Linked DNA regions of Homo sapiens: regions 1 and 2 are each linked to region 3. Evidence: fine-mapped QTL for protein levels in blood plasma. A gene starts in region 3. Each other region holds a variant in brackets. All regions are shown on one strand. Distances are between the middles of the regions. Region 1 holds the start of FAM234A (family with sequence similarity 234 member A). Region 2 overlaps LUC7L (LUC7 like). Region 3 holds the start of HBQ1 (hemoglobin subunit theta 1).

The links. PIP is the posterior inclusion probability: the model's chance that the variant is causal. The UK Biobank Pharma Proteomics Project read protein levels with antibody pairs (Olink). The fine-mapping took linkage between variants from a reference panel, not from the people measured, so its PIPs are less certain.
Region 1: its variant is fine-mapped to the plasma level of the HBQ1 protein (UK Biobank, PIP above 0.99).
Region 2: its variant is fine-mapped to the plasma level of the HBQ1 protein (UK Biobank, PIP above 0.99).

The regions. Positions count from the first base shown.
Region 1 is chr16:229,656-237,891 of GRCh38, forward strand. It overlaps FAM234A (family with sequence similarity 234 member A), which reads left to right and starts at 5,166. Exons shown (of 13, transcript NM_032039.4): 1 at 5,166-5,202. It also overlaps the pseudogene C4orf46P1. RefSeq lists enhancers at 1-166, 4,583-5,126 and silencers at 4,859-4,908, 4,989-5,448. The variant G/A (reference allele first, on the strand shown) is at 1,645.
Region 2 is chr16:218,263-226,499 of GRCh38, forward strand. LUC7L (LUC7 like) reads right to left here. Exons shown (of 10, transcript NM_201412.3): 3 at 2,387-2,485. Among named protein-coding and RNA genes, the nearest start is that of LUC7L, 7.1 kb to the right of the region's middle. The variant T/G (reference allele first, on the strand shown) is at 6,356.
Region 3 is chr16:178,857-186,856 of GRCh38, forward strand. HBQ1 (hemoglobin subunit theta 1) reads left to right here and starts at 1,603. Exons shown (of 3, transcript NM_005331.5): 1 at 1,603-1,725; 2 at 1,810-2,014; 3 at 2,124-2,323. The coding sequence starts at 1,631. The coding sequence ends at 2,252. RefSeq lists an enhancer at 2,104-2,363 and a silencer at 2,374-2,723.

The sequences.
Region 1 (8,236 bases), 51 kb after region 3:
ATGAAATACAGTCAATCAAAAACAAGATGAATCCGTGCTTTTTCTAAGCTAGCCATGAAACCGTGAGCATATTATTTAGCTCCCCGACGCTCGTTTTTTTAAATCTGTGAAATGAGGGTTCTAAAGGTGCCCCTCATATGATTTTTGTGAAAGTTAAATAAAGCATGGAATTTTATTTATTTATTTATTTATTTATTTAGAGCGAGGGTCTTGCTCCGTCGCCCAGGCTGGAATGCAGTGGCGCGATTACCGCTCACTGCAGCCTCGACCTCCCCGGCTCCTTATCCTCCCGCCTCAGCCCGGCAAAGTATTGGGATTACTGGTGTGAACCACCACGTTTGGCCATCAGTCATGGCATTAATATTAGGTTCTATGATTACAACCTCGTGGTCGTCCTTTTGTGAGCTCATGGTCTACTGTCCCAGGGACTAAAGAAAAGGCATATGTAAGCAGTTATTTTATGTGATAATAGAATTATAGCATGCACTTATGTGTGCATAGTCTGGCATATACTTCTATTATATTAAACCTCTATTATTTATTTATTTATTTTTGAGACGGAGTTTCGCCCAGGCTAGAGTGCAATGGCGCGATCTTGGCTCTCCGCAACCTCCGCCTCCTGGGTTCAAGCGATTCTCCTGCCTCAACCTCCCAAAGTGCTGGGATTACAGGCATGAGCCACCACGCCCGGTCTTTATTTTTTATTTGTTTATTTTTTTTTTGAGACGGAGTCTTGCTCTGTCACCCAGGCTGGAATGCTGTGGCGCGATCTCGGCTCACTGTAAGCTCCGCCTCCCGGGTTGAAGCGATTCTCCTGCCTCAGTCTCCCCAGTAGCTGGAATTTCAGGCGCCCGCCACCCCCTCCGGCTAATTTTTGAATGTTAAGTAGAGACGGGGTTTCACCATGCTGGCCAGGCTGGTCTCAAAGTCTTGACCTCAAGTAGCCAGCCACCATGCCCAGCTGATTTTTGTATTTTCGGTAGACACGGTGTTGTACCGTATTGGCCAGGCTGGTCTTGAACTTCTGACCTTGTGATCTGCCTGCCTCGGCCTCCCAAAGTGCTGAGATTACAGGCGTGAGCCACCGCGCCCTGCCGTATTTTATTTATTTTTGAGACGGAGTCTCCCTCTGTCGCCCAGCCTGGAGTGCAGTGGCGCGATCTCGGCTTCCTGCATCCTCTGACTCCTGGGTTCAAGCGATTCTCTTGTCTCAGTCTCCCCAGTAGCTGGGATTACAGGCACCCGCCATCATTCCCGACTAACTTTTTTTTTGTACTTTTGCAGAGACGGGGTTCCGCCATGTTGGCCAGGCTGGTCTTAAACTCCTAACCTCAGGTGATCCGCCCACCTCAGCCTCCCAAAGTCCTCGGATTACAGCTGTGAGCCAGAACGCCAGGCCCCTGCTCTCTATTTAAAATAAATAAATAGGGTGTCCGTTGGGCTGCTCGGGTCGGATTCCGCGGTGCCAGCCCTTCCCCATGGCCGACCCTGAGAAGTTGCAGGTTTCTTCGCCGCCCCCGCCGCCTCCTTCTCCCTCCTCTTCAGACGCCTCTGCAGCATCTTACCCTGGCAGCCCAGTGAGTTTGGGCTGGCCAGTTCCGAGCAGGAGCAGCGGCCGAACGGTGGACCCGCTGGAGGAAGTGG[G/A]GCTGCAGATCGGAGACGCAGCCTTTTCATTAACCAAACTTCTTGAAGCCACATCTGCAGTATCAGCTCAAGTGGAAGAACTTGCCTTCAAATGTACAGAAAAGGCACGTTTCCTTAAAACGTGGCGGGACCTATGGAAAGAAGGCTATGATTCTTTGAAACCTGATGACTAATTTGGCATACTTCGTTGTTTAATAATGACTGCAATAATTCATACTTCTTCTTATGTCATATTTGTACGTGTACCACACGTATAGGATGACCTCTGTCCAGCAGTTCTGTATATACTCAGAATGAATTTTTTCTTGGTTTTCTTGGCTTTTCTGAAAGCAGAATACCGATGCTATTTTTGTTGCGGACCAGTACTTGTTTGTCCTTACATACTTCATGCCTCTGAACTTTCGTAGAATCCTTTATGAAAGTTAACTTCATCAATAGATGGTTAATATTAATAGAGCCACAGGGCTACCAGCAGCAAACTAGGTGGACCATTATTTGTTTTGAAACAAGATGCTAAGCATGGCAGAGTTTGAAGTTGCATTTCATCTTAAGGACCAAGGGAGGTAACTTTAAGGTTGCCAGTGGTGGATCCAGCTCCATTAGGCTACGTTGTCTACAGCTAATGATTGTGCTTCATTCTGTATCCCCAGCACCTAAAACAGGGTCACACAACACTCACTGTTGGTTGAATACAAGAATTAACAAACATAAAAATAAATAAATAAATATAGGCCGGGTGTGGTGGCATGTGCCTCTAGTCCCAGCCACTCGAAGCTGAGGTTGGAGGATGGATTGAGCCTGGGTGGTTGAGGTTGCAGTAAGCTGTGATCACACCACTGCATGGCAGCCTGGGCAAAAGAACGAGACCCTGTCTTGGCCAGGCACGGTGGCTCACACCTGTGATCCCAGCACTTTGGGAGGCCAAAAAAAAAAAAAAAGAATGAGACCCTGTCTCAAAAATGAAATTAAAACTTAAAAAACATGCCAGGCTGGGGGCAGTGGCTCATGCCTGTAATCCCAGCACTTTGGGAGGCCGAGGCAGGCGATCACCTGAGGTCAGGAGTTTGAGGCCAGACTGACCAACATGGAGAAACCCCATCTCTACTAAAAATACAAAATTAGCCAGGCGTGATGACGCATGCCTGTAATCCCAGCTACTCGAGAGGCTGAGGGAGGAGAATTGCTTGAACCTGGGAGGCAGAGGTTGCGGTGAGCCGAGAATGCATCATTGCACTCCAGCCTGGGCAACAAAAGCAAAACTCCCTCTCCCCCCGGCCAAAAAAAAGGCCGATCACAGTGGCTCACGCCTGTAATCCCAACACTTTGGGAGGCCGAGGTGGGTGGATCACAAGGTCAGGAGTTCAAGACCAGCCTGGCCAACATGGTGAAATCCTGTCTCTACTAAAAATACAAAAAAACTAGCCTGGTGTGGTGGCACACGCCTGTAGTTCCAGCTACTCAGGAGGCTGAGGCAGGAGAATCACTTGAACCCAGGAAGCGGAGGTTGCAGTGAGCCAAGATTGTGCCGCGGCACTCCAGCCTGGGCGATAAAGGGAGACTCCATCTCAAAAAAAAAACAGGCCGGGAGTGGTCTATTTTGACACTCCACCTCAAAAAAATTAATTAATTAAAAAATAAAATTTAAATTTTAAAAAATCATTTCACAAATGATAATTTAATATGATTGCTGCCCTGGAAGGGGGAAAAAAGACTTACTCTAAGAATACAACAAAGACTGTTCATGGGCTAGAAGCATCAAAAGTCCAGACACGGTTAGACAAGTTTTGTTTTCATTTATTTTGAGACAGAGTCTCACTCTGTCGCCCAGGCTGGAGTGCAGTGGCGCGATCTCAGCTCACTGCAAGCTCCGCCTCCGAGGTTCACACCATTCTCCTGCCTCAGCCTCCCAAGTAGCTGGGACTATAGGCGCCCGTCACCACGCCTGGCTAATTTTCTTGTATTTTTAATAGAGACGGGGTTTCACAGTGTTAGCCAGGATGGTCTAGATTTCCTGACCTTGAGATCCACCCACCTCGGCCTCCCAAAGTGCTGGGATTATAGGCATGAGCCACTGTGCCCGGCTGACAAGTTTTAAATAATGTTTTAAGGCATGACTTTGCTTCCAATTGGCCATTTGAACAAAGCAATTAAATCATCTGAATTACGCACCTACCAAACTGCCACAGTTACTAGAAATCAGACAACTGCCAGGCACAGTGGCCCATGCTTGAAATCCCAGCACTTTGGGAGGCCAAAGCAGGAGATCACTTGAGTCCAGGAGTTCAAGACCAGCCTGGTTAATATGGCAAAACCCCATGTCTACAAGAAAGGAAAAAAATTAGCTGGGCATGGTGGCTTACAGCTGTAGTCCTAGCTACTCCGGAGGCTGAGGTGAGAAGATCACTTGTGCCTGGGAAGCAGAGGTTGCAGTAAGCTGTGATCCCGCCACTGCACTTGAGCCTGAGGGACAGAGGGAGACCCCATCCTTTTTTTTTTTTTTTTGAGACGGAGTTTCACTCTAGTTGCCCAGGCTGGAGTGCAATGGCAAGATCTCAGTTCACCGCAAACTCTTGCCTCCCAGGTTGAAGCAACTCTCCTGCCTCAGCCTCCCGAGTAGCTATGATTACAAGCACGCGCCACCAAGTCCAGCTAATTTTGGATTTTTAGTAGAGACTGGGTTTATACATGTTGGTCAGGCTGGTCTTGAACTCCCGACCTCAGGTGATCCACCTGCCTCGGCCTCCCAAAGTGCTGGGATTACAGGCATGAGCCCCTAGCCTTTTTTTTTTTTTTTTTTTTTTTTTTTTTTGAGACACGGTCTGGCTCTGTCGCCCAGGCTGGAGTGCAGTGGCGCAGTCTAAGCTCACTGCAACCTCCGCCTCCTGGGTTCACGCCATTCTCCTGCCTCAGCCTCCTGAGTAGCTGGGACTACAGGCGCCCGCCACCACGCCTGGCTAATTTTTTGTATTTTTAGTAGAGACGGGGTTTCACAGTGTTAGCCAGGATGGTCTCGATCTCCTGACCTTGTAATCCGCCCGCCTCGGCCTCCCAAAGTGCTGGAATTACAGGCGTGAGCCACCGCCCCCGGCCCTGGCACCGTATTTCAAGGCCGAAAATTCGCATCCTCAGTGCCAGCAATTCTCCTCGTGGTCAAAGAGGAGAAACACTGGGGAGAGCACCCGGAAGCGGGGGCGAGGACGCAGATCGGGGGTCGACGTCAAGAAAGAAGGCGGGAAGAGGACAAGGTCGGGAGAGGAGGAGGAGGGGAGCGAGGACGCAGAGAAGGAGGGGAAAGAGGACGGAGAGGAGCGAGGACGGAGGGGGGACGGGAACGAAGAGGGGCGAGGACGTTCAGCATCCATTGCGACAGCGACAAACAGGACACCGCCAGGTTCCCGGCGGAGGCAGCGCCCAAGATCCCCGTTGCCGAGCAACCGAAGCATGGCGGTGGGGCGGGGTCGGAGCCTGCGCATTTCCGCCCCCGCCCGCCCGGCTGGTCGGAAGTGACGCCAGGGGGCGGGGCCAGCGGCGCGGTCGGGTGAGAGGCCGCGGCGGCAGGTGAGTGAGCGCGGCCTCGTACTCGCGCGTGCACGCCGCAGGGGCGCCGCAGGCCGCCCCTTCGCTCTGGGACCCCGGCCCCCAGGTTCCCCAGTCCCTCGGCCCCTGGAGGACCCCGCCGTGCTGCCCCCTAGCTCCTCCGCCTTCCCGAGTCGGGTGCGGGCCGGGAGGCTGCGGCGGGGCCCCAAGTCCCTCAGCGGGTCGGCAGCAGCGCCTCTGGAGGCTGATTCTTTCGGGTTTCCCCCATTGCCGCAGCCTGGGTTTCAGTGGCATTCAGAACAAGCCCACATGTTCCTCAAAGCGGGGTTTTACCTCCCGGTAGGGAGCTCCCCGCCGTGGCGCAGCGTAGGTGAGCCGGCCGTGGTCGCTTTCGCTCTTGGTGCCGCCTGGGTTGCCTGAGAGTGTTTTTTTATGGTGGAAGAATGTGGATGAGAAGCCTCACGGGGGTCGGAGAGGCGTGTCCTCTCTCGGGACGCTGTCTGCAAGCTTGTCCGTCCGGCACCCCGGGAAAGCTCCCCGAGCGCAGCCGAGGTTGCTCGTCTGTGGGAGGGACTCAGGCATAGAACACAAAACAGAGGCTAGATGGGAGGAAAACACTGGGATTAGCGTTCCTGGCTCTCCCCTACGTTCGTTGGCCGAGAGTTGTCAAGGAGAGAGTTTGCCCTTGGACAGACTGATAGGATATCAGGGTAGGCAATTTCACTTACTCTCTGGTTCTAAACCTTGTGATTCCAGCTGAGGAGGCTGTGACGCGCTCCCTTCCATGTACTGGCTGCCGGTGTCTTTACGGCGCCAGCATCAGATTACACTACTTCCCTTATTGCAATTTCAGTCTGCATCCAATTAGAGCAGAATAACTCAACAAATACTCTCCGAGTGTCTGCTGGGAACCAGGGATGGTTGTAGGAGCTAAGGATATAGTACTCCACGAAAGAACTTCCTGTCCTCAAGGAGCTTCTATTCTACTGGAGGGTACAGATAGTAAATTAGATAAATAAAAAATGGAGCTTGCTGGGCCGGCGCGGTGGCTCACGCCTGTCATCCCAGCACTTTGGGAGGCCGAGGCAGGCGGATCACCTGAGGTCAGGAGTTCGAGACCAGCATGGCCAACATGGTGAAATCCCGTCTCTACTAAAAATAAAAAAATTAGCTGCGTATGGTGGCAGGTGCCGGTAATCCCAGTTACTCGGGTTCAAGCGATTCTCCCCACTCAGCCTCCCAAGTAGCTGTGATTACAGGTGCCCGCCACCACACCCAGCTAATTTTTTTTATTTTTTATTTTTAGTAGGGGTTTCACCATGTTGGCCAGGCCAGTCTCAAACTCCTGACCTCAGGTGATCCACTCGCCTCGGCCTCCCAAAGTGCTGGGATTACAGGTGTGAGCCACCGCAACTGGCCCTCTTTTTTTCCTTTTGCTCCACCCTCCTGAGTATCTGGGACTACAGGCATGTGCCACCATATTTATTTTTCTTAAAAATTTTTTTTGGGTGGGCGCAGTGGCTCATGCCTGTAATCCCAGCACTTTGGGAGTTTGGGGTAGGCGGATCACTAGGTCAAGAGATCGAGACCATCCTGTCCAACATGGTGAAATCCCGTCTCTACTAAAAATATAAAAATTAGCTGGGTGTGGTGGCGCACACCTGTAGTCCCAGCTACTTGGGAGGCTGGGGCAGGAGAATAGCTTGAACCCGAGAGGCAGAGGTTGCAGTGAGCCGAGATTGCACCACTACGCTCTGGAGACATAGCGAGACTGTCTCAAAATAAATAGGCCGGGCGCGGTGGCTCACGCCTGTAATCCCAGCACTTTGGGAGGGCGAGGCGGGCGGATCACGAGGTCAGGAGATCGAGACCATCGTGGCTAACACGGTGAAACCCCGTCTCTACTAAAAATACAAAAAATTAGCCGGGCGAGGTGGCGGGCGCCTGTAGTCCCAGCTACGCGGGAGGCTGAGGCAGGAGAATGGCGGAAACCCCGGGGGGCGGAGCCTGCAGTGAGCCGAGATCGCGCCACTGCACTCCAGCCTGGGCCACAGCGAGACTGTCTCAAAAAAATAAAATAAAATAAATAAATAAATTATTTTGTAGGGATGGGGTCTCTCTTTCTCAGTCTGGTCCTGAACTCCTGTGCCCAAGCAACCCTCCTTTGTTGGCCTCCTGAAGTGCTGGAATTATAAGTGTGAGCCACTGCGCCCAGCCTGTTTATTTATTTATGTATTTTTTTAAAAAAATATGTAGATGGGTTCTCACTGTGTTGCCCAGGCAGGTCTCAAACTCCTGGCTTCAAGCAGTCCTCCTGCCTTGGCCTCGCAAAGTGTTAGGATTACAGGTGTGAGCCACCATGCCCACCCCTTCTTTTTCTTTTCAGGCTCCTTGCTTCCATTCTGCTGACTTCTAATGGTTGTCTGCTGCTTGTAACAACACAAAGTTTAATGGATTAAAGTGACGAATATTTATTATCCAACAGTTTCTGTGGGTCAGGAATTGATCAGTGGCTTATCTGGGTGATTATGACTTCGGGTCTCATGGAGTTGCAGCCAAGATGTTGGCTGGGGCTGCAGGTGTCTAAAAGCTGGATGGAGTCTTTTCTGTTTTTTCTAGAGGTCGAAAATTTAAAAAGAACAAATAAAATAAAAGCTGGACCAGGGCTGGAGGATCTGATTCCAAGATGGCTCACTCACAAGGCTAGTGACTGGAAGCCTCAGTTCCCTCTTGGCTGGTGGCAGGAGCCCTCAGTTCCTTGCATCATGGAACTTTCCTTAGGGCCCATGTCCTCACATGGTAATTATCTTCCCTTAGAGCAAGTGATCTCGGAGTGAAAGTGGAAGGTTTCCACCACAAAACCTGTTAATGAAATTCTTTTTTTTTTTTTTTTGAGACAGAGTCTTCCTCTGTCACCCAGGCTGGAGTGCAGTGACGTGATCTTGGCTCATTCCGCCTCCCTGGTCCAGCTATTCTCTTGCCTCAGCCTCTGGAGGAGCTGGGACTACAAGCACGTACTACCACGCCCAGCTATTTTTTTTATTTTTAGTAAAGA
Region 2 (8,237 bases), 40 kb after region 3:
CCCTTGGGTTTTATATTTTTCACTGGCTCCCTCATCCCATGCTCAGTGCCTTCCCGGTCTTCACTCAAGAACCAGAATGGCATCAAACCCCTCTACTAACCTCTGGTCATACTAGCGATGGGTGATTAGGGATTAAAAAACAATTAAAATTGAGTGAGTTTAAATCATGTATTCTTACCAGGCACAGTGTAATCACACCTGTAAACCCAGCACTTTGGGAGAGTGAGGTGGGTGGATCACCTGAGGTCAAGAGTTCAAGATGAGCCTGGCCAACATGGCGAAACCACATCTCTACTAAAAATACAAAAATCAGCTGGGTGTGGTGGCGGGCACTTCTAATCTCAGCTACTTGGGAGGCTGAGGCAGGAGAATTGCTTAAACCCAGGAGGCGGAGGTTGCAATGAGCCAAGATTGCGCCACTGCATTCCAGCTTGGGCAACAGAGGGAGACTCTGTCTCAAAAAAACAGAAAAAAGAATCTTAAAAGGCTCCACTGGGGGCAACAACGAAAAAAAGCTGAAAAATGCTACTCTAAATGAATTTACTGGCCAGGCATAGTGGCTCACACCTGAAATCCCAATACCAGTGAGAGGCCAAGGTGGCAGGATCACTTGAGGGCAGAAGTTTGAGACCAGCCTGGGCAACATAGTAAAACCCTGTCTCAAAAAAAAAAAAAAAAAAAAAAAAAAAGGCCGGGTGTGGTGGCACACACCTATACCCGCAGCTACTCAGGAATCCGAGGCAGGGCTATCACTGAGCCGAAGAGGTCAAGGTTACAGCAAGCCATCATCACGCCACTGCCCTCCAGCCTGGGTGACAGAACAAGAACCTGTCTCAAAAATAAATAGGACAGGCGCGGTGGCTCACAGCTGTAATCCCAGCACTTTGGGAGGCCGAGGCAGGCGGATCACAAGGTCAGGAGATCGAGACCAGCCTGGCCAACATGGTAAAACCCCATCTCTACCAAAAATACAAAAATGAGCTGGGCATGGTGGCGCATGCCTGTCATCCCAGCTACTTGGGAGGCTAAGGCAGGAGAATCACTTGAACCAGGGAGTCGGAGGTTGCAATGAGCCAAGATGGTGCCACTGCACTCTAGCCTGGTGACAGAGCAAGACTCTGTCTCAAAATAAATAAATAAATAAAAATTAAAATAAATTAAATAAATAATTAGCCAGACATGGTCGTGTGCATCTGTAGTACTAGCTATTTAGGAGACTGTGGAAGAAGGATCACCTGAGCCCAGCAATTCACTTACAGTCAGCTATAATCATGCTGCTGCACTCCAGCCTGGGCAACAGAGTGAAACTCTGTATCAAAAAGAAAAAGAAGCTAGGCACGGTGGCTCAACCTGTAATCCCAGCACTTTGGGAGGCTGAGGCGGGCGGATCACCTGACGTTGAGAGTTCGAGACCAGCCTGATCAACATGGAGAAACACCATCTCTACTAAAAATACAAAATCAGCCGGGCATGGCGGCTCATGCCTGTATTCCCAGCTCCTCAGGAGGCTGAGGCAGAATTGCTTGAACCTGGGAGGAGTAGGTTGCAGTGAGCCAAGATCGCACTACTGCTCTCCAGCCTGAGCAACAAGAGTGAAACTCCGTCTCAAAAAAAAAAAAAGAATTTACTAATGTAGATAAAATAACACAACTACTGAGTACTAAAAAAATGCAAATTGAGATCAGAAAGAAATGCCATTTTACAACCACTAAACTGCAAAAATTAAACAGTCTGATAATACAAAGTGTTGGTGAGCGTGCAGACACTGCTATGGGACTTTACCAAATAGAAACAAGAAGACAACATTACAAAATTGTCTTGCGAGGATAAATACGGGTATCTCCTATAAACCAGCAATCCCTCTCCTAGGAATATACCCAAAATAAATCCTTATCCACGTGACAAGGAAGTTATGCAAAAATATTCATATTGTCTGCAGTAGCAAAACTAGAATCAATCTAAATGTCTATGAATAAAGCAAAGATCGTTTGAGAATTATTCAAGCAGCAATGAAAACTATATGCAACAACCTGGGCAAACAGAAACATGATACTGAACCAAAAAAATCTAATTTTAAAGACTCTACACTATGAAACCATTCAAAACTAAGCAAAAATAAACACTGTTCAAGGACTCATAAAAATGTAATTAAAATTTTTAAAAGCAACAAAATGAGATAACACATATTATCATTTAGGACACTGACAGGACGCTGGACACAACATATAAACAGTACTGGCTGTATTCTAGCTCTGAGCTTGAGTGGCAGGATAACAAGCAACTACCTTATTATTTTGCTTCATAACTTACGTATGTTACATTTTTCTTGTTAGTTCAATATTGGGTTCTTCGCAGTAGGAATAAATCAACATTAAATAAAACTTACATCTAATTCAAAAAACAGGTCTCTTTCTTTACTTGCAATCTCATAATCTGCTCGGAGGGCCAAGTCGTGGATTTTGGTACATTCTCCTAAATCCATGCGCTGTGGGAAAGAAACAGAAAATGCAGACCTCAGTGCCTACCTACTGTAGAAAGCACACAACGCGACTTGGTGTTTCAACTGTCACCAACAGAAATGATCACTTTTGGAACACTGACACTGCAATAAGAAAATTAAGAAAGGAGATATGGCTGAGAAGCCTCATTTCACTTTTACCATCGTGACTACGTGATACTTGAAACTGATGCATTTAATAGTGTAAAGTTTCTATTTTAGACCCAGAGATAATTGGACTGTAATCATCACAACTACATTAATTGGCTTTTGCCAGTTTTTAAGGAGTCTCACCTGTCACCCAGGCTGGAGTACAGTGGCGCGACCTCAGCTTACTGTAACCTCTGCCTCCGGGGTTCAGGCAATTCTCCTGCCTCATTCTCCCAAGTAGCTGGGATTACAGGCACGTGATACCACACCCAGCTAATTTTTTTTTTTTTTTTTTTTTTTTTTTTTTGTATTTTCAGTAGGGACAGGGTTTCGCCACGTTGGCCAGGCTGGTCTTGAACCTCTGACCTCAAGTGATACACCCACCTTGGCCTCCCAAAGAGCTGGCATTACAGGTGTGAGCCACGGTGCCTGGCCCAGTTTTATTTATGCATCAGTCCAAGGATTCAGTAAATGGCAGCATGTGGGGTGGCAGGGATAGGAAACGGCCAGGGCTGGGCGTGGTGGCTCACGCCTGTAATCCCAGCACTTTGGGAGGGTGAGGCAGGCGGATCACTTGAGGTCAGGAGTTCAAGGCCAGCCTGCCCAACATGATAAAACCCAGTCTCCACTAAAACTACAAAAATTAGCCAGGTGTGGTGGCAGGGCACCTGTAATCCCAGCTACCTGGGGAGCTGAGACACAAGAATCGCTTGAACCCAGGAGGTGGAGTTTGCAGTGAGCCAAGACTGTGCCACTGCACTCCAGCCTGGGTGATAAAGTGAGACTCTGTCTCAGAAAAGGGGAAAAAAAAAAGGAAAGGGCCAGAAAACAGTCTCACTGCAACAAATTTCTAGGCATTGTCTTGCAATCTTGACTACTTGAGATGCTCGATGCTTAAGATGCAGAGACAGAGGAAGAGGAAAGAGCGGACAGAAGTTAGATTTTGGCAATTACATCACAACCTAACACTTGGCTTTGTGTAGCTGATTGTGTATCAAAGGGAATAAAGGAGAACAGGCTGGTTCGTAGCCAAATACATGCTCTACACATTTTCTTAGCCTGGGAAATGACCCTGGACATCTAAGTGAGGACAGATAATTGTCCCACTCAGTTCCTCCATTTGACAAGCAAAACGTTCCATTACTAAAACAAAATGATTTATGTTGTCAGTAAGAACAGCATGATGTGCTATTATGTGTACCATATGCAGTACAATTAGAAAACAGTGTATGATTTTAATCTAAATCCTAAGTATAGGACTCTATGCAGACACCTTCTGCCTCTCGCCATCTACACAGCAACAGGGAGGTTTGTGTGCTGAGGATCATCGTGTCAAGTTATAGAGTGCATGTTAACAAAACCCAACATCCCAACTAGGAGACACCCCCAGTAGGACAAAAGAACATGTCTACATAACCAGAAAAAAAAAAAAAAAAAGACGTTAGTACCAGTTGCAGTGGCACATGTCTGTAATCCCAACACCTTTGGGAGGGCAAGATGGGAGGATCACTTGAGCCCAGGAGTTTGAGACCAGCCTGGGCAACATAGCAAGACCCTGTCTCTATGAAAAAATTAACAATTAGCTGGGTGTGGTGGTATGTGCCTGTAGTCCCAGCCACTTGGGAGGCTGAGGGGAAGAGATCGCTTGAGCCTAGGAGGTCAAGGCTTCAAGTGAGCTGTGACTGAGCCACTGCACTCCAGTCTGAGCAACAGAGACCCCTGTCTTTTTAATTTTTTTTTTTTTTTGAGATGGAGTTTCGCTCTTGTTGCCCAGACTGTAGTGCAATCTCGGCTCACCGCAACCTCCGCCTCCCAGGTTCAAGCGATTCTCCTGCCTCAGCCTCCCAAGGAGCTGGAATTACAGACATGTGCCACCACGCCCAGCTAATTTTGTATTTTCAGTAGAGATGGGGTTTCTCCATGTTGGTCAGGCTGGTCTCGAACTGCTGACCTCAGGTGATCCACCCACCTTGGCCTCTCAAAGTGCTGGGATTACGAGCGTGAGCCACCTCGCCCAGCTTTTTAAAGAGACCCCGTCTTTTAAAAAAAAAAAAAAAAAAAGAAAGGAAGGCTTTAAACCTTTAATCCATCTTGAGGGGGAAAAAAATAGAGAGGCTTGCATGTCTGACTCTTGGGATGCAGTCTCATAGAAAGCATGTAGCATGCTAGGCTGGGCACGGTGGCTCACTCCTGTAATCCCAGCACTTTGGGAGGCCGAGGCGGGCGGATCACGAGGTCAGGAGATCAAGACCATCCTGGCCAACACAGTGAAACCCCTTCTCTACTAAAAATACAAAAAAAATTAGCTGGGCGCCTGTAGTCCCAGCTACTCAGGAGGCTGAGGAAGGAGAATGGCATGAACCAGAGAGGCAGAGCTTGCAGTGAGTCAAGATCGCACCACTGCACTCCAGCCTGAGCGACAGAGCGAGACTCCGTCTCAAAAAAATAAAATAAAATAAAATAATAGATAAAAAAAGAAAGCACGTGGCATACTCACTAACAAAACATCCTTCAGTATCACCAATAATAAAGCTAACATGGAGGCGGCAGACAACGGGTCTGCCTTGTATGGTGATGTTTATTTTGACGAAAGATTGACTTTTCTCCTTTATCATTCTTACTCTGAAGTCAGATGGGACTCACGTTATGGTCGGTTACATAGAAGACTTAGAGATAGGACAATAGTGGTTCTAGAAGCCAAATTTGCACTTAAAATCACTGTCACTGAAAATCTGACAACTTTTACCTCATTCACTCTGTTTTTTCTTTTTTTTTTTTGAGGCGGAGTCTCACTCTGTCGCCCAGGCTGGAGTGCAGTGGCACGATCTCAGCTCACTGCAACCTCTGCCTCCCAGATTCAAGTAATCCTCCTGCCTCAGCCTCCCGAATAGCTGGGACTACAGGGGCACGCCACCACGCCCGGCTAATATTTTTGTATTTTTAGTAGAGACAGGTTTTCATCATGTTGGCCAGGCTGGTCTCAAACTCCTGACCTCAAGTGATCCACCCGCCTCCTCCTCCTCCTCCCGAAGTGCTGGGATTACAGGTATGAGCCACCGCACCTGGCCTCATTCACTCTTCTAAGTTGTGGGTGTTGTCCTTTAAAATATATAGTTTCCACAAACTAAGCATTGTAGCTGAAAAATGAATGGCAGCTATCAGAAAAAATGCTTTAAACTAATCAAGGCTTTGTTGTTCAAAGAAAAAGCTACTACCAAAGGAAGCAGACCCTAAAACCTGAAGTACAACAAAGTATGAAGTACAAATTGATTTCCATTATAAAAAACTCAACTGTCAAGAAAGATATGACATTAGAAAACCTCATGAGGCCGAGCGCGGTGGCTCATGCCTATAATCCCAGCACTTTGGGAGGCCGAGGAGGGCGGATCACCTTAGGTCAGAAGTTCGTGACCAGCCTGGCCAACGTGGTGAAACCCCGTCTCTACTAAAAATACAAAAATTAGCCGGGTGTGGTAGCGCACGTTTGTAATCCCAGCTACTCGGGAGGCTGAGGCAGGAGAATTGCTTGAGCCCGGGAGGCGGAGCTTGCAGTGAGCTGAGATGGAGCCATTACATTCCAGCCTGGGCAACAAGAGCGAAACTCAGTCTCAAAATAAAAAAAAAAGAAAACCTCATGAGGCCAGGCGCGGTGGCTCATGCCTGTAATCCCAGCACTTTGGGAGGCAGAGGTGGGTGGATCACCTGAAG[T/G]CAGGAGTTTGAGACCAGCCTGGCCAACATGATGAAACCCCATCTCTACTAAAAATACAAAAAAAATTAGCCAGGTGTGGTGGCGGGCGCCTATAATCCCAGCTACTCAGGAGGCTGAGGCAGGAGAGTTGCTTGAACCCAGGAGACAGAGGTTGCAGTGAGCAGAGATAGCACCATGCACTCCAGCCTAGGCAACAGAGTGAGACTCCGTCTGAAAAAAAAAAACCTCACATGAAGCAAAATTCAGCACTTACTTTTCAATGTGAGAGCTCCCAAAAGAGTCCCTGCTTAAGCACACTGAGGATAGGCTTGGGTTCTATGATTACCCTCTTTGGATGTAGCTTTTCAGCTTTGCCAAGGAGGCAGGGAAAAATACTACTGGCCATTCCCCTGGATGCCCAACATCAAGCAGAGCTGAAATATCACATTCATTAAGTCCTTCCACAATATTCCACATGGCTGCTAAATCCAGTGTGTCAGGCGTTTTTTACTCCACAACCTGTGTTCTCTTCTGTACCTTCTACTGGTCTAACACTACTGACCAGGAAGGGCACCAAAGTTTCCGGAACCTTCAGAAAACACAGTTCTGGCCGGGCGCAGTGTCTCATGCCTGTAATCTCAGCACTTTGGGAGGCCAAGGTGGGTGGATCACGAGGTCAGGAGCTCCAGACTAGCCTGGTCAACATGGTGAAACCCCGTCTCTACTGAAAATACAAAAGTTAGCCGGGCGAGGTGGTGCATGCCTGTAATCCCAGCTACTCGGGAGGCTGAGGCAAGAGAATGGCTTGAACCTGGGAGGCAGAGGTTGCGGTGAGCCACGATCACATCACTGCACTCCAGCCTGGGCAACAAGAGCGAAACTCCGTCTCTTTTTTTTTTTTTTTTTGAGACAGAGTTTTGCTCTTGTTGCCCAGGCTGGAGTGCAATGGCTCGATCTCGGCTCACCACAACCTCTGCCTCGCGGGTTCAAGTGACTCTCCTGCCTCAGTCTCCTGAGTAGCTGGGATTACAGGCATGCGCCACCACACCCAGCTAATTTTGTATTTTAATAGAGACAGGGTTTATCTATGTTGATCAGGCTGGTCGCCAACTCCCAACCTCAGGTGATCCACCCGCCTCGGCCTCCCAAAGTACTGGGATTACAGGCGTGAGCCACCGCACCCAGCCTGAAATTCTGTCTCAAAAAAAAAAAGAAAAGAAAAGAAAAGAAAAGAAATACTCTCACTCAGATTATTTTTCTCACCAGTATTCTGCAGCTATGCTACACAGGGTCTGGCCAAGGAAAACATGGTTGAAATCTTCCCGAGAGTGCACATCTATCTGCTCCCTCTGACTTCCTTCACTATGGGTTTATCAAGAATTCCAAGTTGTGCATCCTATGAAAATACCCTACAGTGAAACTTCCTTTGACGAGTTGAAATCATTAATCTGTATTGACCTCGGTACACACAACAATCTGCATCAAACAGTAACGTTTTCCCATCCCAGGCCAAACAGCAGACAACACCCCAAGGAACAGAGGCACAAGGTTTGGCATTCATTTCGCATTTGCTGTCAGAAAACTCAGCTTGAGAAGTTTTAATACATCTGAGCGGTTTTCCAGAAGGTGCTCCTCCCTAATATAAGCAATGATTCATCATGAAGAAAACTTCCTTTAACATATGCACATTTCATCCTTAAAATGAGAGGATAGTTTTTAACCTCCGTGAGGTAGCTGTGAAACCTTAAAATGGGGGTGGTCTCTACAGGACTCCTTTTCTCTCAGTGGCGTAATCACCACAGATAACCTTCCACTATTCAGTCTTTTCAAATTCTTACTTCGAATAAATGCACATTATACAAAGCTAGCGTTTATCTGTTTTGTTCATCTGAAGTGAACTTA
Region 3 (8,000 bases):
GAGGTTGTAGTGAGTCAAGATCGCGCCATCGCACTCCAGCTTGGGCAACAAGAGCGAAACTCTGTCTCAAAAAAAAATTTAATCTAATTTAATTTAATTTAAAAATTAGCACGGTGGTTGGGCACAGTGGCTCACGCCTGTAATCCCAGCACTTTGGGAAGCCAAGGTGGGCAGATCACAAGGTCAGGAATTCGAGACCAGCCTGGCCAATATGGGGAAACCCCATCTCTACTAAAAATACAAAAAATTAGCCGGGTGTGGTGGCGCACGCCTGTAATCCCAGCTACTCGGGAGGTTGAGGTAGGAGAATCACTTGAACCCAGGAGGCAGAGGTTGCAGTGACCCGAGATCACACCATTGCACTCTAGCCTGGGCAACAAGAGCAAAACTCCATCTCAAAAAAAATTATAAAAATTATACATCAGTAGATGAATGGGTAAACAAAATGTGGTGGTCTATACACACAATGGAATATTATTTGGCCACAAAAAGAAATGAAGCACTGATAGGATGTAGCTGCACCCTGAAAATATTTGACAAGTAAAAGAAGCCGGACACCAAAGGTCACAAACTGCATGACCCCATCTATATGCAATATCCGCTACAGCCAAATCCATAGGGACCAAAAGCGGATTAGTGGCTGCCGGGGCCAGAGTTACTGTTAATGAGTACCGAGGTGGCGTTTGGGATGATGAAAAAGTTCTGACCTAGATAGTGGTGATGGCTGCATAACACTAAGTGTTCTTAATATCACCAAATTTTATACCTGAAAAATGGCTACAATGGTAATTTATGTCTATTTTATCACCTTTTTTAAAACAAAAAAGATATAAGGGGTACAGCAGAGTGAGTGCTGCATATGCATTTACTATTATTCTTGGGTTACATCCCAGGTACTCAATAAATGTTCACTGCCCTGAAGAAACACCTGCTACGAGTCAGGCACCTCACAGTTGTTATCCGTTTAATTCTCACAATCTGAGAAGAAACTGTCACCCTCATTTTATATAATAAATGAGAAAACAGACTCGGGCAAGTGTCACAATAGAATCAAGAGGCAGAATAAACTGACTTCCAATGCCAAATCCATGCCGAAATTCAGTGCTATAATAATGTACATGGCCGGGCGCGGTGGTTCACGCCTGTAATCCCAGAACTTTGGGAGGCTGAGGCGGGAGGATCACCTGAGGTCGGGAGTTTGAGATCAGCCTAACACGGTGAAACCCTGTCTCTACTAAAAATACAAAATTGGCATGGTGGCATGCACCTGTGATCCCAGTTACTCGGGAGGCTGAGGCAGGAGAATCGTTTGAACCCGGGAGGCGGAGGTTGCAGTGAGCCGGAATGGCGCCACTGCACTCACCGCACCCGGCCAATTTTTGTGTTTTTAGTAGAGACTAAATACCATATAGTGAACACCTAAGACGGGGGGCCTTGGATCCAGGGCGATTCAGAGGGCCCCGGTCGGAGCTGTCGGAGATTGAGCGCGCGCGGTCCCGGGATCTCCGACGAGGCCCTGGACCCCCGGGCGGCGAAGCTGCGGCGCGGCGCCCCCTGGAGGCCGCGGGACCCCTGGCCGGTCCGCGCAGGCGCAGCGGGGTCGCAGGGCGCGGCGGGTTCCAGCGCGGGGATGGCGCTGTCCGCGGAGGACCGGGCGCTGGTGCGCGCCCTGTGGAAGAAGCTGGGCAGCAACGTCGGCGTCTACACGACAGAGGCCCTGGAAAGGTGCGGCAGGCTGGGCGCCCCCGCCCCCAGGGGCCCTCCCTCCCCAAGCCCCCCGGACGCGCCTCACCCACGTTCCTCTCGCAGGACCTTCCTGGCTTTCCCCGCCACGAAGACCTACTTCTCCCACCTGGACCTGAGCCCCGGCTCCTCACAAGTCAGAGCCCACGGCCAGAAGGTGGCGGACGCGCTGAGCCTCGCCGTGGAGCGCCTGGACGACCTACCCCACGCGCTGTCCGCGCTGAGCCACCTGCACGCGTGCCAGCTGCGAGTGGACCCGGCCAGCTTCCAGGTGAGCGGCTGCCGTGCTGGGCCCCTGTCCCCGGGAGGGCCCCGGCGGGGTGGGTGCGGGGGGCGTGCGGGGCGGGTGCAGGCGAGTGAGCCTTGAGCGCTCGCCGCAGCTCCTGGGCCACTGCCTGCTGGTAACCCTCGCCCGGCACTACCCCGGAGACTTCAGCCCCGCGCTGCAGGCGTCGCTGGACAAGTTCCTGAGCCACGTTATCTCGGCGCTGGTTTCCGAGTACCGCTGAACTGTGGGTGGGTGGCCGCGGGATCCCCAGGCGACCTTCCCCGTGTTTGAGTAAAGCCTCTCCCAGGAGCAGCCTTCTTGCCGTGCTCTCTCGAGGTCAGGACGCGAGAGGAAGGCGCCGCCCCTCCCCAAGGAAAGGCGAGGGCCTGGGGCACACCCCCAGTGCCCAGATCCAGGCGCGCCTCTTTCCACCTCCAGCAGGTTTGGGGCCTCGGCCATGGGGGCACCGAACTGCGTGCAGCCTGACCCTCCCGAATGGGGTGGTAGGTGAGGGCCGCGGGACGCCCCGGGCGGCGGGCTGCGAGGACGGCCGACTCTGCCCATCCCGAGGGCGGCTGGCTTCGCCCTCCCCACTCTGCGCCGAGCACGCGGCCCGGACCCACCGCGAGAACTCCGCACCTGCAGCGTGAACGCACGCGGGCGGCGTTAAGGGCCCGGGGCTGACTCGGAGCAGGTTAGGGAACAGCGCCCCCTCCCGGCGCGAGCCGGTACCTGCGCAGCACCCAGCCGCCGCGGCTGTGGCCTGGAATCGGGGACCTGGGGTGCCGGGGGGTTGTGGTGAAGGAGGTGGGACCAGCCCCAGCACCTAGCCACGTAGCTGGCGAGGTGGACCAGGAACCGACCCAGACCCCTGCCGTCACCCGACATCACTACGGAGAGTGAAGCTTTTTTATATTTGTCCACATAAAACCAATCATGGTCATTGTAGAACTTCCGAAAACAAGGCTTGCTGCACCTTCCTGTGTATCCCAGGTCCAGGAATGGGTGCAGCACATCCTTCAGCTGCCGCTTGACACGCGGCAAACTGTGTCATGTGTAAACAAGAACAGGACATGGCTGTCATATCCAAGAGCACATGTGTAACACAGACATGCCACACACACACACACACACACACGGGGTAGAGGCAGGCCTCATCCACACCCCTAACATTTGATGCGTAGCTGTTCCAGTCTTCTAGGCACATGTAGAGATGCTTTTCCTCAGAAATGGTATTCTCAAGGTGACACTGAGGAAAAGTGGACAGGCCGGGCGCGGTGGCTCACGCCTGTAATCCCAGCACTCCGGGAGGCCGAGGCGGGCGGATCACGAGGTCAGGAGATCGAGACCATCCTGGCTAACACTGTGAAACCCCGTCTCTACTAAAAATACAAAAAAATAGCTGGGGGTGGTGGCGGGCGCCTGCATTCCCAGCTACTCGGGAGGCTGCGGCAGGAGAATGGCGTGAACCCCGGAGGCGGAGCCTGCAGTGAGCCAAGATTGCGCCACTGCACTCCAGCCTGGGCGACAGAGTGAGACTCCGTCTCAGAAAAAATAAAAATAAAAATAAAAATTAGCTGGGTGTGGTGCGGGCGCCTGTAATCCCAACTTCAGGAGGCTGAGGCAGGAGGATGGCTTGAACCCGGGAGGCGGAGGTTGCGGTGAGCCGAGATCACACCATTGCACTCCAGCCTGAGCGACAGAGCGAGACTCCGTCTCAAAAAAAAAAAAAAGAGGAGGGGGCGGGGGGAAGAGCCAGAGAAAATATTTGCTACATGTGGCAGATAAAGGTTATTATCTCTACTACATTAGATCTCCGGGCGGGGCATGGTGGCTCACGCCTGTAATCCCAGCACTTTGGGAAGCAGAGGCCGGTAGATCACCTGAGGTCAGGAGTTTAAGACCAGCCTGGCCAACATGGTGAAACCCCGTTTCTACTAAAAATATAAAAACTAACTGGGTGTGGTGGTGCATGCCTGTACTCCCAGCTACTCGGGAGGCTGAGACAGGAGAATCACTTGAACCAGAGTCGGAGGTTGGAGTGAGCTGAGATTGCACCACTGCACTCCAGCTTTGCGACAGAGCGAGACTGTCTCAAACAAAAAAAAAAAAAAAGAAAAGAAAAAATCTGGCCCCTAGCCCACCCGTGAGCCCCCTCTTGGATCCACGTTCTAGTTTCTATCCTTGGGGTAGCTCGAGTCAGTCTCACCTCAATCATCCTGTGTGCTCCCAGAGCACAGGACCTGCGGCTGCTGCAACTTCGCGCACAGGAGCAAGCACTTGGAGCCCAGGAGGCTCAGGGGCCCTGAGGAAGCACCAGGCTCTCAGACTCCTGTAACTAGGTGTGGACACCCTCCTGGGATTACATCTGGAGCATCACTGAAGGTGGAAGAGCCAGACCGCATCCTCCCTGGAGATGTGGAGGTTGGAGGGAGCTGGCCCTGGCTCAAGGGCTCAGCCCACTTGGTACAGAACCTACCCAGAGGTGCAGATCCAAGGGAGCAGGGGGAGCAGCTGTGGGCCCTCCACACTGTTGGGGAGACTCATGCCCACTCAAGTCCAGGGGAATTTGCACTCTGCCTTTTTTTTTTTTTTTTTTTTTTGAGATGGAGTCTTGCTCTGTCACCCAGGCTGGAGTGCAGTGGTGCAATCTCAACTCGCTGCAATCTCCACCTCCCGGGTTCAAGCGAATCTCCTGCCTCAGCCTCCTGAGTAGCTGGGATTACAGGTGCCTGCCACGCCTGGCTCATTTTTATATTTTTAGTAGAGACGGGGTTTCACCATGTTGGCCAGGATGGTCTCAATTTCTTAACCTTGTGATCCACCTGCCTTGGCCTCCCAAAGTGCTGGGATTGCAGATGTAAGCCACCGCGCCTGGCCATACTCTGCCTTTTCAAAGCCACTCCTACACAGGTGGTGGTGAAGGCTGCACAACAATGTAGATACACGTCGTGCCACTGAACTGTACACTGAAAAACTGTTATAACGGCACGTTTTGTGTGCACTTTACTATAATAAAAAATGTTCCATCCTGGCTGGGCGCGGTGGCTCACGCCTATAATCCCAGCACTTTGGGAGGCCGAGGCGGGCAAATCATAAGGTCACGAGATTGAGACCATCCTGGCTAACACAGTGCAACCCCGTCTCTACTAAAAAAAACACACAAAAAATTGGCCGGGCGTGATAGCGGGCGCCTGTAGTCCCAGCTATTCGGGAGGCTGAGGCAGGAGAATGGCGTGAACCAGGGAGGCGGAGCTTGCAGTGAGCCGAGTTTGCGCCACTGCATTCTAGCCTGGGTGACAAAAGCGAGACTCCGTCTCAAAAAAAAAAAAAAAAAAGTTCCATCCTGGCCAACGTGGTTCTGGCTCCAGGCTGCCACCCCTCCCCCAAAGGATGCCACCCCAGATAGGGGTCCTCGGCCTGCTCCAGCACCTGCCTGTCCCATGACGGCTGCACACTGGGGTAGGAAACGGCCTCCGCATCCTCCTCTCCTCCCCCCAGGACTACCCTTAACCCACTCAGGGCTTCGGTCAAGGCCCATGCGCTCCCCAAGCCCAAGGTAACCCTGTGCAGGAGGCAAAGGTGGTACAAGGCACAGCCCATCCAGCTAGTTTGGCGCCGACAGCACCCACCAAACAGAGCCATTTACCTTTAAAAAAATCACTGCCAGCTGTGGTGACACACCTGTAATCCTAGTGCTTTGAGAGGCTGAGGTGGGAAGACTGCTTGAGCCCAGGAGTTCCCAAGAATATCCTGAGCAACATAGTGAGACCTGTCTCCACAAAAACATAAAAAATTAGCCAAGTGTGGTAGTGCACACCTATGTCCCAGTTACTTGGAGGCTGGGGCAGGAGGATCACTTAAGTCCAGGAGTTCAAGGCTGCAGTAAGCCATGACTACAACACTGCACTCCAGCATGGGTGACAAAGCAAGCATCGTCTCAAAAAAAATAAATAAATAATTTTGGCCAGGTGCCGTGGCTTACGCCTGTGATCCCAGCACTTTGGGAGGTCAAGGCGGGTGGATCACGAGGTCAGGAGTCCAAGACCAGCCTGGCCAAGATGGTGAAACGTTGTCTCTACTAAAAATACAACAATTAGCCGGGCATGGTGGCGGGCCCCTGTATTCCCAGCTAGTCGGGAGGCTGAGGCAGAGGGTGCAGTGAGCCGAGACTGCATCACCGCGCTCTAGCCTAGGAGACAGAGCGAGACTCCGTCTCAAAAAAAAAAAAAAAAAGTTTTTTTTTAATCGCCAAATGTTCTGGAGAGGCCCCCTTCTCTTCTGTTCTCCTGCAGTCTGGGCTGCAGGCCAAGGTGGTCCCTGTGGGTGGAGACAAGGGCCGGTTCCACCTGACACTACAGACCCCTTCACATGGGAGGGATACACTTCCAGACCCATATATCTCCGAGTAGCCATCTTTGGCGAGATTTACTGGTACTGCAGTGGAAAGGAAGGACTCGCTGTACTGGGTGAAAAAAGTGAAAACATGGGACTCCTATCGCAGACTCTGACAGCAGAACCTGGTGTGGGTTATTTGGGAGGAGGGAGGGAGGAGGGAGAAAGGAAGAGCTGTTGTGGGTGCTATCAGCGAAACTGCACCGGGGGCATGAAGCTCAGTTTGGTCAGCACCACCTGGCAGGTGTACCAAAAGCCCACCCGACTGTCCCTGCACGGTAGAGAGGCAGGAGCGCCTCTCCCTGCACGGATGGTGCCCCGGAGGCTACCAGGGGCGGCCGAGGACACTGATGCTGCATCCCAGGAGGACCTGTCCTTCAGCTGTAATCAGCAGACACGGGGGACAGGATGGCCAGGGGCACAGCACCTTTTCTGTAAACCCCACACCCTGACCCCCCCCACCCAAAAAAGCAAAAAACAACTATTTGTCTACACATACAATTTTATGCCCAGATGGAAAAAGATCCAAATGATTCACAGTGGTGATGGCTCTGAGGGTGACGCTGTCTGCTTAAGGCCCAGGGAAACCCAGGTGCAAACTCACACTCATCACCCAGGCAGCCACAGCCATGAACACAACGTGGGCTTGGGAACAGGGAGCCCAGACCCAACCACTCCCTCCTAGAAGACGAAGAGGAAAGCACATGTGCTGAACAAGTACCCTGAGTCCCACCTGCAGGAAAAGGTGCAGGTAAGGAATACGGACACGGGAGGAATACGGACACGGAGGGAACAGCGACACGGGGGGAACAGCGACACGGGGGGAACAGCGACACGGGGGGAACAGCGACACGGGGGGAACAGCGACACGGGGGGAACAGCGACACGGGGGGAACAGCGACACGGGGGGAACAGCGACACGGGGGGAACAGCGACACGGGGGGAACAGCGACACGGGGGGAACAGCGACACGGGGGGAACAGCGACACGGGGGGAACAGCGACACGGGGGGAACAGCGACACGGGGGGAACAGCGACACGGGGGGAACAGCGACACGGGGGGAACAGCGACACGGGGGGAACAGCGACACGGGGGGAACAGCGACACGGGGGGAACAGCGACACGGGGGGAACAGCGACACGGGGGGAACAGCGACACGGGGGGAACAGCGACACGGGGGGAACAGCGACACGGGGGGAACAGCGACACGGGGGGAACAGCGACACGGGGGGAACAGCGACACGGGGGGAACAGCGACACGGGGGGAACAGCGACACGGGGGGAACAGCGACACGGGGGGAACAGCGACACGGGGGGAACAGCGACACGGGGGGAACAGCGACACGGGGGGAACAGCGACACGGGGGGAACAGCGACACGGGGGGAACAGCGACACGGGGGGAACAGCGACACGGGGGGAACAGCGACACGGGGGGAACAGCGACACGGGGGGAACAGCGACACGGGGGGAACAGCGACACGGGGGGAACAGCGACACGGGGGGAACAGCGACACGGGGGGAACAGCGACACGGGGGGAACAGCGACACGGGGGGAACAGCGACACGGGGGGAACAGCGACACGGGGGGAACA